Linked DNA regions of Homo sapiens: regions 1, 2 and 3 are each reported to be linked to region 4. The links are microRNA targets in miRTarBase. Many come from high-throughput screens and were not tested one by one. Region 4 holds a microRNA gene; each other region holds the end of a gene's coding sequence.
What was found. The annotated mature microRNA hsa-miR-3685 reads UUUCCUACCCUACCUGAAGACU and lies in region 4 at 1,645-1,666, shown strand. An mRNA with a match to its seed (bases 2 to 7 or 8) in the 3' UTR can be bound and repressed. Matches are read on the target gene's strand: a 7mer-m8 pairs with bases 2 to 8, a 7mer-A1 pairs with bases 2 to 7 and ends in A, and an 8mer does both.

Region 1: the mRNA of WT1 is a reported target of hsa-miR-3685. The part of its 3' UTR that is shown has no 7-base or 8-base seed match.
Region 2: miRTarBase lists CDKN2AIP as a target of hsa-miR-3685. Seed matches in the 3' UTR shown: 7mer-A1 at 1,565-1,571.
Region 3: the mRNA of TPM1 is a reported target of hsa-miR-3685. The part of its 3' UTR that is shown has no 7-base or 8-base seed match.

What each region holds. Positions count from the first base shown.
Region 1 is chr11:32,386,232-32,389,415 of GRCh38, reverse strand. WT1 (WT1 transcription factor) reads left to right here. Exons shown (of 10, transcript NM_024426.6): 10 at 237-1,641. The coding sequence ends at 358. Among named protein-coding and RNA genes, the nearest start is that of WT1-AS, 48 kb to the left of the region's middle. RefSeq lists a cis regulatory region at 2,462-2,479 and enhancers at 2,264-2,521, 2,173-2,521, 2,399-2,543.
Region 2 is chr4:183,447,082-183,450,265 of GRCh38, reverse strand. It overlaps CDKN2AIP (CDKN2A interacting protein), which reads right to left. Exons shown (of 3, transcript NM_017632.4): 3 at 1,202-3,184. The coding sequence ends at 2,839. Among named protein-coding and RNA genes, the nearest start is that of CDKN2AIP, 4.0 kb to the right of the region's middle.
Region 3 is chr15:63,065,323-63,068,506 of GRCh38, forward strand. TPM1 (tropomyosin 1) reads left to right here. Exons shown (of 10, transcript NM_001018005.2): 10 at 574-856. The coding sequence ends at 577. Among named protein-coding and RNA genes, the nearest start is that of TPM1-AS, 18 kb to the left of the region's middle.
Region 4 is chr12:95,308,284-95,311,467 of GRCh38, forward strand. MIR3685 (microRNA 3685) reads left to right here and starts at 1,640; the gene lies at 1,640-1,701. It overlaps MIR331 (microRNA 331), which reads left to right and starts at 137; the gene lies at 137-230.

The DNA.
Region 1 (3,184 bases), not on the chromosome of region 4:
TTTCCAAGTTTTCTGACCTAAGAATATAACTTTTTACAATATTTCGATCCTTAAAGCCCCAAGAGGTGCTGCTGTTTCAAGGCTGCCTGGGAAATGAGCTCAGTTGGTTAGCTCAGGGACAGAATGATGGGAAATTCAGAGTGGGTGCCTTGTGATGACTTCACTCGGGCCTTGATAGTTGAACTTGTGCCTGTCTCTTTGTTGCAAGTGTCTCTGACTGGCAATTGTGTCAACAGGTGAAAAGCCCTTCAGCTGTCGGTGGCCAAGTTGTCAGAAAAAGTTTGCCCGGTCAGATGAATTAGTCCGCCATCACAACATGCATCAGAGAAACATGACCAAACTCCAGCTGGCGCTTTGAGGGGTCTCCCTCGGGGACCGTTCAGTGTCCCAGGCAGCACAGTGTGTGAACTGCTTTCAAGTCTGACTCTCCACTCCTCCTCACTAAAAAGGAAACTTCAGTTGATCTTCTTCATCCAACTTCCAAGACAAGATACCGGTGCTTCTGGAAACTACCAGGTGTGCCTGGAAGAGTTGGTCTCTGCCCTGCCTACTTTTAGTTGACTCACAGGCCCTGGAGAAGCAGCTAACAATGTCTGGTTAGTTAAAAGCCCATTGCCATTTGGTGTGGATTTTCTACTGTAAGAAGAGCCATAGCTGATCATGTCCCCCTGACCCTTCCCTTCTTTTTTTATGCTCGTTTTCGCTGGGGATGGAATTATTGTACCATTTTCTATCATGGAATATTTATAGGCCAGGGCATGTGTATGTGTCTGCTAATGTAAACTTTGTCATGGTTTCCATTTACTAACAGCAACAGCAAGAAATAAATCAGAGAGCAAGGCATCGGGGGTGAATCTTGTCTAACATTCCCGAGGTCAGCCAGGCTGCTAACCTGGAAAGCAGGATGTAGTTCTGCCAGGCAACTTTTAAAGCTCATGCATTTCAAGCAGCTGAAGAAAAAATCAGAACTAACCAGTACCTCTGTATAGAAATCTAAAAGAATTTTACCATTCAGTTAATTCAATGTGAACACTGGCACACTGCTCTTAAGAAACTATGAAGATCTGAGATTTTTTTGTGTATGTTTTTGACTCTTTTGAGTGGTAATCATATGTGTCTTTATAGATGTACATACCTCCTTGCACAAATGGAGGGGAATTCATTTTCATCACTGGGAGTGTCCTTAGTGTATAAAAACCATGCTGGTATATGGCTTCAAGTTGTAAAAATGAAAGTGACTTTAAAAGAAAATAGGGGATGGTCCAGGATCTCCACTGATAAGACTGTTTTTAAGTAACTTAAGGACCTTTGGGTCTACAAGTATATGTGAAAAAAATGAGACTTACTGGGTGAGGAAATCCATTGTTTAAAGATGGTCGTGTGTGTGTGTGTGTGTGTGTGTGTGTGTGTGTTGTGTTGTGTTTTGTTTTTTAAGGGAGGGAATTTATTATTTACCGTTGCTTGAAATTACTGTGTAAATATATGTCTGATAATGATTTGCTCTTTGACAACTAAAATTAGGACTGTATAAGTACTAGATGCATCACTGGGTGTTGATCTTACAAGATATTGATGATAACACTTAAAATTGTAACCTGCATTTTTCACTTTGCTCTCAATTAAAGTCTATTCAAAAGGAAAGTGGCAAGATTCCATCAGCTGTATTGTGTTCAAATCTCAAGGCCACTGAGCCTCTTTTAAACAGGTAAGAGAAGACGCCACCGACATCGACGGCTACTAGTGAGCCTATCCAGGTCCTGACCACAATTTATTTCTCTCTGTCAAACTTCAGGAGGGACTTATATGTCCTAGAAGCAACAGAGAATATCTTCACCTTGTGTTACAGAGTGATTGTGCTCATGCTGTGGTTGAATGGGGTTTGTGGATGATGTGGTGATTATGTTTTAAGGTTTTAAGGTTTATTTTAAGCAGATTGTCATTGCATCCCATCATCCCAGATCAGCAAAAGAAAATAGAGAGATGTTAATGACAACTAGTCCTTTTGAAAAGTTCAGATACATCACTGGGAGGGCATAGGCTGAACACCTAGTACAATTGAATTTACAGCTGTACTTGCTATAAATCAGCTCAGCAGATTGAAAACTGCTCAGCCTTTCCAGGGCAACTGAGTGTGAAAGCAAAGATCTATATTATCTATAAACTATAAACTCTCTTTCTGTTCTGGTGTATGGTTTTTGAATTGTAAATAAGGAGATTAATTTGGTGCAGCCCCTCTCAGCTCCATTATCTTGGGGCTTGCATGCATTCCGGGTTTTATTTCTTCATTTAAAATGCGTCTCAAACAGATGGAAGCCTAGCTATGGAGACTGTTTTACATTGAAGTGCAGCTCAAAGTTTGGGCAGCCTAAAAGTCAGGTCCAGAGGCCCCTCTTATTTTGCATCTGGCTCTTGCATCACTGTTAATTATAGCGAGTGTGGTGACTCATTTATATCAGCCGTTTTTATCTTTTCCTGCCAGAAGACAGCATTTCTCTGGAGAAGCTCAGGACAAGCATGGCAAACGTCAGCGAGTCGGAAAGAGCCAGGTCTTACAACAAAAGTACAGCCACATTGATTGTTTCAACTGCACAGGGAAGAACAGAGATTCTCAGACGACCCTGTAAGTTTAGCTTGCAGTTAAGATCATGGGCTATGGAAAGCAGACCAACCTGGCTTCAAATTCTAAATCTCCAGTTTCTTTATCTGTGAAGTGGGGACAAAAGTCCCTGCCTGATAGGATCATAGTGAGGTTTAATTTTTTTTAAGTATGAAAACATCAAGTACATAGCAAATGCTCATAAACATTATCTAGGAAAACTATTACCCAAGAAATTACTGGCTCATTTCTTTTACCTCTCCCTCCTCCAGGCATCCTCTTGCAGTATCTAGCCATCCTCACAGGTCAGCTCTGAAAAATGGTAAAAAGTCCATTGCCCTCTACCCCAACCCAGAGTTAATAACTTTTGCAGCAATTGAGCTTCTTGCCAGCCTTGCCACAGAGACCATCTCTGCTTGCTCTGTGTCTTCTGTAAAGCACTTGTGAACACTGTATGTGTTTCTGAGACCCACTGTGTTACTCTTCCATAGACTGTGAGGAGTTAGTGGGTGAAAGTAGGTCAGTGGGAGCTCCCTGTGGCCCAGGCTTGAGGCGGTGTTGGGTGCAGTGGTCAGCATGTGCACTTTT
Region 2 (3,184 bases), not on the chromosome of region 4:
GGCTTGTTTTTGTTACTTTCTCACTGCTGTTACTCAAAAATCTAAACAGCAAGTAGAAATTTGTACCAAGAAAAGCTGCACTTGGCAGGGAAAACATAATTCAAATTGGAGCAGGCTCCTGATAATACATATCAAAGGCCTTAAAGTTACACATATCCCTATGACAATTATCCTAGCCAATGACAGCAGTGACAGGCTCCAAGAATTTAGGTCAAAAACTCATGACAGTATCATTCTTACAAGTCAACTAATTTTACCATTAAAAAAAAAATCTCATTCTAACATCAAGAAAAATCTTGATGTCTCAGGAAATCGTCTCCCCTCACTCATCTGAAAAAAGCAGTATATCCCATCTTGGTAGCCGACTTTATTCACTCAACTTGATTATACACTATTTTAGGCAGGTGTGTTTGGTTTTTTGGTTTTGGGGGGTTTTTTGTGCAGATTTCTTTTGTGTGTGTATGGTCTTTTTACAAAGTTCAACTGCATCCATATGGGATGATTCACTAGTTGAGGATATTCAAGATATGCAAGTATTAGAAGCATTAATAATAGAAGAGCCTCTGAAGTGACTCATTTCAAGGAGGCTTTAGAAAGATGCGGTCACTTAATCTGGTAAAAAATCACGTTCTGGGAGGGATTTTCAGAAATTTCAGCATATAGAGAAGTGACAAGGATAATAAGCAGTACAACATACTTGAGCTTGGGTTTTGAAATCAGATATGGGCTTGAATTATCTGACCGAATTACTCTGTGTAAGTTTCTCCATCTGAAAAGTAGGCCAAATGAGAAGAGCTCCTTGTAAGAGGAATAAGAATATATAAGTGAACCATGGGATATCTGCACCATGCCGGGCACTTTGAATGTATCATCTCATCTAACTGCCATGCTCTATGAGACAGCTATTAGTCCTATTTCACAGACGAAGTAAGGTTAAAAGGTTAAATTCCCAGAGGTTACATGTCTAGTAAGAGACAGCCAAGATTCACTCTCAATAATAGAATTCTAAAATATGCATTTCTCTTAAACCAGGATTCTTTAAATGTTATTAACCAAGAGCATTTTTCTAGGTTTTTAAATAGGATTATCATAAATGTACACTAAACAACTTCCTCCACATCAAAAGTCACTATAAAACATTCTCAATAACCTTCATAGTAACTTGAAACAAGCCAATTTAGGAAATTACCAAACCACCTAATTGGATATATTATATAAATTTATTTGTTCGTTGTAATTTTTTGCTTTTCTGATAATCATTATCCCACAAAATACACATTCCAAGACTGAGGAAAGTGAGGTAACTAAAAGTGCTTTCACAATACATTCATGTTATTGTGTCCCGCAATCTATAAAGGCAACCCACTTACAGTATATGGATTTTAGCTTTGGTATCCAATTAAATATCCTCAAAAATGAATCATTTTTAAAGGTTATATGGTAAAATTAAAACATCTGATTATGTAATTATGTAATTCTAGCATAAAAAATTAAAGTATCTTTTTATTCCTAGAATACAAAATAGGAATAACTGCTACATACTTAAATTGTGCTTACGTTTGATTTTCCTATTCCAACACAACTGGCCCATGAAAGGTCTTTCTTTTCTCTCTATATTATCACCATTATTGCTCAATGGGCAGTATCTAAAAATAGAATCTAGAAAGCCAGAAACCACAAAAATAACATCTTGGGGCCAGTTTGAAGCAAAGTAAACAGAATATACAATGACAGACAAACAGGCAGAATCACCTAAGACGAAAACAAAATTCCACTTCATTTTAACGAATGTAGTTAAATTGAATAGGCTCATTATCAAGAGCTGAACACGGCTCTCTGTTCTTTCCGGTATTCTAAAAGATGCATAAACACAAAAACCATCCAGTTCTAGATTTGAAAATTGAAGGGAATCGCTTTTAATCTATTCTGGCTCAGGGGATTGCTGTAAAAAAAAAAATTAAATAAAGATGTATATCACACAATTACCTGGTTGTCTAATTTATAATGACAAGTCATGGGAAGCCTATTTGCAGGAATTGGTTCTGACTTGGAGAAAAAAAACACAACTTCTTGAAAAGGTAAAATAGCTTAAAGCATTTAATATCTAAACAAATCAATCTGTTAATAGTAGTCACAAAATATGCTTAATATAGAAACCCACATTCATGTTTTTAAGAAAAAAGTGTAAATTGTATTCCACCTCAAAACATAAATTAACCCGCTTAAAGAATCTTCAGCGGTCAAAGTCATGGTGAATTTTAAACAACTTCAGAGTAAAATAACAAGTACTTTATACTGCTTTATATCTAAAAAATGCTTACAACTTCTCATAAAAATAGTTTGAAGCAACTATTTTTTCTTTTATTTTTTAACAGACACGTTCAACATTACGGGCAACATTTTTAAAACCTTAAGCTTTACAGACTTTCAAACATTCAAATACTGTGGTCCCTTTCCTTTGATGTGGTTTATTCAGCTAGAAAAGAAAACATGGTAGACAACTTAATACATTTTCACCAAATTGAAAGTAGTACAAAAATTTTAGGACTCTACCGAACTACACATCGTACCTAATGTATCATTAAAAATAGAAGACAGTATTTTCTTCAGCAAATAAAACAGCATACTAATATGCTGCTAATGCATACCTTTTAATGTGTACTGTCATTCATAAATTATTTACAACTGCTACTGTGTGAAGAGAACTAGAATGTAAATTTTCTGCAAAACTGGAAAAAAAGCAATACAAAATTTGTGAAAGCCTGTGTTTTATACTATACAAAAGTCAGTTTTTCTCTTCAAATACCAGATATTGTATGCAGTGATATTTTGGACACATTATAGTAATTCTTGAGGATGTTTTAGTGCTGGAGGTAAGTTTACAGGCCTCGATTCTTCATCAAGGAGTACTAGATCTTCTATTTCACTGCCTCTGTATTTCCTTTTACATATTTTTACCACCACCTTTTTCTTGAGAAATAACTTCAATGCTTCTCTTGATGCAACTGCTTTTGCATTTTCTTTGCTTTTTCCACAGCCAGTGCCCAAATACACAGACTTGCACCTCAATTCACAAACAATACTTTCTTGAGAGCTCTTATTTTGAGGCAGATCTGCCAATTCTTTTAGTGGGACAAAAAATACATCCAGTGTTGCTTTCAGAGCCTCAATAGCTGCATTTAGG
Region 3 (3,184 bases), not on the chromosome of region 4:
CCATTGAAGCTGGAAATGTCATTTTCCAAGCCCACCTGTCATTCATTTACCCATGCAGAAAAAATGGTAACTTGAAGAGAGTGGCATGTGCCTGCTGCCTTAGAGGTTATAGAATCCCCACAGTCAACAAAAAAGCCTCTAGAGACATGACTGTTGCCATGGAAACCAGAGAAAATGTGTCTTCTCATCCCTCATTTGTAAATGAGGGGGTGGAGCAGATCATCTGTCTCTAAGGTCTTTTTCAGTGCTAAAATGTGGTGATTCTTTGGGAAAAACTTTTTGCATCAAGTATGATTAAATATTCTGAAAGACGAGTGTAGCTTAAAATTTTTTTTGTTTTTAAATTCTGTTCATGGGTCTTCTTAAAATGGACCCTTGCCGAAAGGCGGCCTGTGACGGCCTCAGGTGGGAAGATGGATGTCCTTCCAAGGGTGTGGCTGGCAGTGGGGTTTGCATGACTGCTTCTTGTCTGTGTTTCAAGTGCTCTCATCTATTGGTTTGGTTTCCTTTCTTTTTTTTTTTTTTCTCATTGTGCCACTTTTTTTTTCCTCCCACCTTTTTATCTTCACGCAGATAAGTTTCTTTGCTTCACTTCTCCCAAGACTCCCTCGTCGAGCTGGATGTCCCACCTCTCTGAGCTCTGCATTTGTCTATTCTCCAGCTGACCCTGGTTCTCTCTCTTAGCATCCTGCCTTAGAGCCAGGCACACACTGTGCTTTCTATTGTACAGAAGCTCTTCGTTTCAGTGTCAAATAAACACTGTGTAAGCTATTTCTGTTTGCTATTCTTTTTACTTCTTATTTATTGACATTTTAGTTTCAACATTGAATAAAACTACAAAGCTGCTTCACACATATGAGGGTTAGTGTTTGGCTGCTGCTTTTTCTTTTTAAATACTGAACACTATACAGAATTATATCAGGAGTTTCTAAAGCAGTAGTTCCTTGTTGAACTTCAAAAAAATACCCAGGCCTGCATTCCCTCTCAGAGTTCTGATTTTCAAAGGTTAGAATGAGGTCTGGACATCTGGGGGGGTTTTGGGGGAATTGTGATGGCTCTGCTTTGCAGTCTGGGTCACACAGGGGACATTGCTTGTTGAGAGTTGAAAGGTCTGGCTTGATCAGTGTCTTCCTTTGCTGGAGGTTTAGCTCGGGATGTAGTGACCCCTCTGTGTTGATTATTTCGGTGGCCTTACTTGGGAGGACCTGGCTAACTAATGAAAGGCTCATGATGAATGGTTCTGTAGCTGTCCCATATTACTAGGAAGTTATACATTGAGAAGGGTGAAAAAGAACTTGGATTCAAACAATGTAAGTTTTGGTTATTGTCGATCATCCTTTTATAGCACAAAGAAAAGTTCAAGCTTTTTTGAAGTATATTCATGACTCAGCCACCTTTATTTTGATCATGAAAATGACATCTTAGGTTTTCTAAATATGATTACTCTGTTTAGTCGTGATTTGTTTTGTGCTTTTTAGCACATACTCTTTGGGAGGGATTGTACATAATCTTTGTGTTCAATGGCTGTGTTTTCATTTGTGGACATTTTTAAAATATAGCAATGAAAGTTTCTTTTTTTTTTTCCCAAAAAGATAGTTGGTGGAAATTGTTCAGAAGACAATTGTATTTCATTTGGGCTTCTGTTTTATTTCACAAACAGCAATTAAGTGATTTTTTTAAAAAAATACATTGCAAAAAATAGAACTTTAACTAATATGGACTTTAGTGTTATAATTCCCAACATTTCTCCTTCCTCAACAATCTAGCTATATATTTCTCCTGTTTTTTTTTTAACATGGATGATCTGCATGTTTTGTATATAGTTTTTTTAGCCCGAGAGGGCTGATATACCACCATACTCAAATAAATTTGGACAAACTCAGAAGATAGTGTCATTCTCACTCTACAGAGACTTCAAAGCATAGAGGAAATACTTTTTTTTAAAGAAAGCTGTGAATTAAAGTATTTTAGTCATAGTATGGTGGAATTTTAGAATCTGGACAATGTCTCTCCCTTGAGTTTATAAAGACTTCCATGATTTCATGCTTTTCTTTTCTTAAGGCTCCTTGGGCCTGCTTCTGACTATGATTCCTTCCTCATTCTTTTTTAAATTCAGAATAAGAGAAGTGTACCCTTCTCTGAGTAAATCCTGCTTCCTGATGTAGACAAAATGCCAAGTCTGAAAGTTCTGCTGAGCAGATGTTCATGTAATTCTGGAGGCACATCTGTGTTTTGGAAATCCTTCCAGAGACTTTCGCACTTTCTATAAGTACACTCTACAAGGGGAAGTGGGGCACTAATGGACTGGGAGGGCAGGTCAGGAGTAGCCCAAGGTATGCATGTGCAAGAGGAAAACTTGATAAACTCAAGTTTATCAAGAAATTGTTGATTTCTTGTTCAACTGTTGATTTGAACCAGGCTTCTGGTTCAAAGGGCCAGGCCATAGCTACAGCTGCTCTGGTGGGCCAAACCAAAAGCATCACTGAGTTTGGGCACTTGAAGTTTCAGACAGCTGGGAGTCTCCATAGAACCGGAAGGGAAAACACTTCCAAGGATATGAGCATGTCTTGTCCCTGCCTTTGGGCCACCCATGCACACCAGCTCCACAGCAGCTGAAGCAGAGCAGATCCAGAGGAGGCTGTCGGAGGGACCACTGTCCTTCCTGCTGAATTCATACTGACCCTCTGGATTCTCCAGATTTTCTCCAAAGTTCTTCCATTCTAGCCTGGCCAAACATTTGGGCTCAGCAAACTGAGACAAGCTCCCCACCCATGGCGACACTTCCTATGTCCATAGTGTGAATGTAGTAATGGGATATATGTCTTGGAACCCCCAAGCATATGTCACGTGCAAAACACCGTGGGAAGCAGTGGGGGTGTGGTAAAGAGATGGGCTGGAAAGGCTCTTTGTCCTCAATAAGCTGGGCATCTGATGGGGAGATAGAGGAGTGAAGCGAGTCCGAACTAATAGGCATGTGTATTTGGAGGCAACAAGGAAGAGAGAACCATTCTGACTGGGAGCTCCCTGGAGGAGGTAGCGGACGTTTGACTGGGGTTTGGCATATTCAAAAAATGTGGATGAGCAAAGAGGACAGAGCAGCAGATATTCCAAGCGAGAAAACATAACGAGCATAGCATCCTCCCATGTCCTACCATTTATAAGAGAATGTTAATGTGAGAACTGC
Region 4 (3,184 bases):
TCAGCTGACAACGTACAGAAGGCTCCAGAAATGTCACTCCCATCCCTTAAAGGTTGGTATATGGTCCTGGTACAGTCGTGGAGGTCCATATGGGTGAAAAGCCCAGAAGTCTACCTGAGCTGAAAGCACTCCCAAGGAGTTTGGTTTTGTTTGGGTTTGTTCTAGGTATGGTCCCAGGGATCCCAGATCAAACCAGGCCCCTGGGCCTATCCTAGAACCAACCTAAGCTCGCGCATCATTCCTGGAACATCAAGAGTGTGAAGACTGAAGATAACCTGAGGCCTACCAGACATCCTATATTCACCAAGATTCACATTTTTTGGTATGTGTGCCTACATTTTAGCAAAAATTGGTTGGTTAATCCTTCTAAAATTAGAGGGATGACATTGGGTAACAAAGTCTTCCCAGCCTTTGGCATTATAGTAATTTCTCGCAATAGAAATTCCATACAGATATTATTGCCAGTGAAGAGAGCTATTCTTGTTTATTATCAGTTCTATATTTTTAGCTGAAGCAACTTAGCCCTAAAAAACCCCAAAATCAACTTCTTCCTCCAAATTAAACTCTCCCCCAAATTTAATGGTTTCTGTTTTCTTAAATGTTTTTCTACTTGACACTGTTATGTCAGTCTCATGTAACTGAATAATTGTTCATAATTTCTGAAGAGCATTTAGTCTTTGCCATCTGGCTTCAGTGCCAAATGATTTTCAATTCTTGTTTTTGGAGACTAATGACTTTTTCCTTAATTTATTATCAAATTTGCCACATTTTAGAGCTCACTTTTAGAAGTTCTGCTATGGTTAATGAAAACAAGCTAGAATGACACAGTAGAAATTGGTTAATACGTCACATTTTACATCACTATTTTGTAGAAGATTTTTAGTAAGTTTCTCTATTTTTATTCCTTGCCACTCTGGATTTTACAAATATTCTGACCTAGTTGATCCATCACATGGTCTCATATCACAACTGTTGCATCGCTATATTCACATAGATGTTTTTCTGTTTAATTTAGAAGACAGTATTTCTGAAAAAGTATGAAACGACCCCAAATCCAAAAGTTATGGTGCACAATGAAAATGTATGCTTTTAATAATGCTGGCTTCTGCAGTAGGTGTAGACCATGTTTCAAATAACCACAGACTAATCAGAAACTCCACCTGTGAAAGGAACTTGAAATTGTGCTATTCCTCCAAGCTTATAACACCAGCAAATTGGGTCAATAGGTTATTCCTTTAAAATAGGACTATGAGCCTACAGAGGCTCACTCTGAAGAACTCAGCCGTGGAGTTAGTTCTGTACTATATCCATCACAACAGACATGCTTCATCCCATAGACTTCTTGACATAGCTTGAAATGAGTGAACCCATCCTTGATTTATATACATATATGTTCTCAGTATTTTGGGAGCCTTTCCACTTTTTTAAACCTTGTTCATTATGAACACTGAAAATAGGAATTTGTGAAGAGTTAAAAAGTTATAGCTTGTTTACGTAGTAAGTTTTTGAAGTCTACATTCAATCCAGACACTTAGTTGAGTGTTAAACTGTGATTTTTAAAAAATATCATTTGAGAATATTCTTTCAGAGGTATTTTCATTTTTACTTTTTGATTAATTGTGTTTTATATATTAGGGTAGTACATTTCCTACCCTACCTGAAGACTTGAGATTATAGTCTTTGGGGGGATGGGCAAAGTACTCTCTTTTTTTGCATCTTTTAAATTGTGATTTTTAAAAACACATATAAATTTTACTATCTTAACCATTTTTATGTGTATAGTTCAATGAGATTAAGTCCAGTCACATTGGTGTGAAACAGATCTTCAGAATTTTTTCATCTTGCAAATCTGGGACTCTATACCCATTAAACAACTCCCATTTTCCCCTTCCCCACAGCCTTGGCAACCATCATTCTACTTTTCTCTATGAATTTCACTACTTTAGATACCTCATATAAATGGAATCATACAGGATTTGTCCTTTTGTAGCTGACATATTTCACTTAACATAATGTCCTCAAGGTTCATCCATATTGTAGAATGTGATAGGATTTCCTGCCATTTTAAGGCTGAATAATATTCCACTGCATGTATTTACCACATTTTTTTATCCATTCATCTGTTGGTGGACGTTTGGGTTGCCTCCATCTCTTGGCTATTGTGAATAATGCTGCTGTAAACATGAGTGTGCAAATATCTATAATTTTTTAACACAGTACTTTATTTTCGGTATTTAATCATATGGAATTTTTGTCAATTATGTTAAAGGATTTTACAACAACCCAACTATAGATTTATATATATATGTATTATTGTTGTTCCTTCTAAGCTTAAGAAGTCTCTAATAAAATCCATACTTCCTTATATCTTTTTGTGTGTGTACCTTTTTTATTCTGCTCTTTGCCATATGGATTAATACCAAAAGGTAAAAATCCCTTTTCCTTCCTATCTGTTTTTCTTCCATTATAGTATTTTTCAGAATTTGTTAATATGCCAAAAGATGGCAGTTGTCTGGGAAAGCCATTGATTCATTACTCCAAGTTTTGTTTGTTCATTTAAGTGCCTCATATGATAATTTATCACAGTGAAAACAGCAGTGTAAATTTTAAAGTTCCATTTTTGCCATTCCCAGTGATTGTTAGCCACTGAATACATTCTGGGCATGTTATATTTATTGACTTATATAACCTCCTTGACAGAAAAGACACTGACACCAAGAAGGTCATGAACACCCGATGAAGCATACTTTGACAAGTTGGTTGAATTAATGTTACTGGTTTGAACCTTTCTAGGCTTACCTACACTCTTAGGAACATTCATGGGAACTCCAAAATGGTTCTGTATACTAAAAGCTAGTTAAAGAGAAAGTGGCCTCCCTTGAACCGGACTTTTAAATAATAAGCCATTTCTTTCCAGAAAAGATTTAAAGCAAGGAATAAATATCTATAAAGGCAATTTTTGAAACTTGACCCTTGTTTGGAATTTTCTAATTGAAAGTATGAGATAAGGTAGAATATGTGTAATTACTGGATTCTGAAGTCATTGAGTAGGAAATATCCCATATAGTAGTCCTTCCTTGTCTTCACAATTTGCTTTTGAAGGTCTTTAGCAGATGTGCTATAGCCATTGAAAATTAAGTTGGCAAATGGTAATTTTGCCTGAATGTACATCTGTAAAAATGAA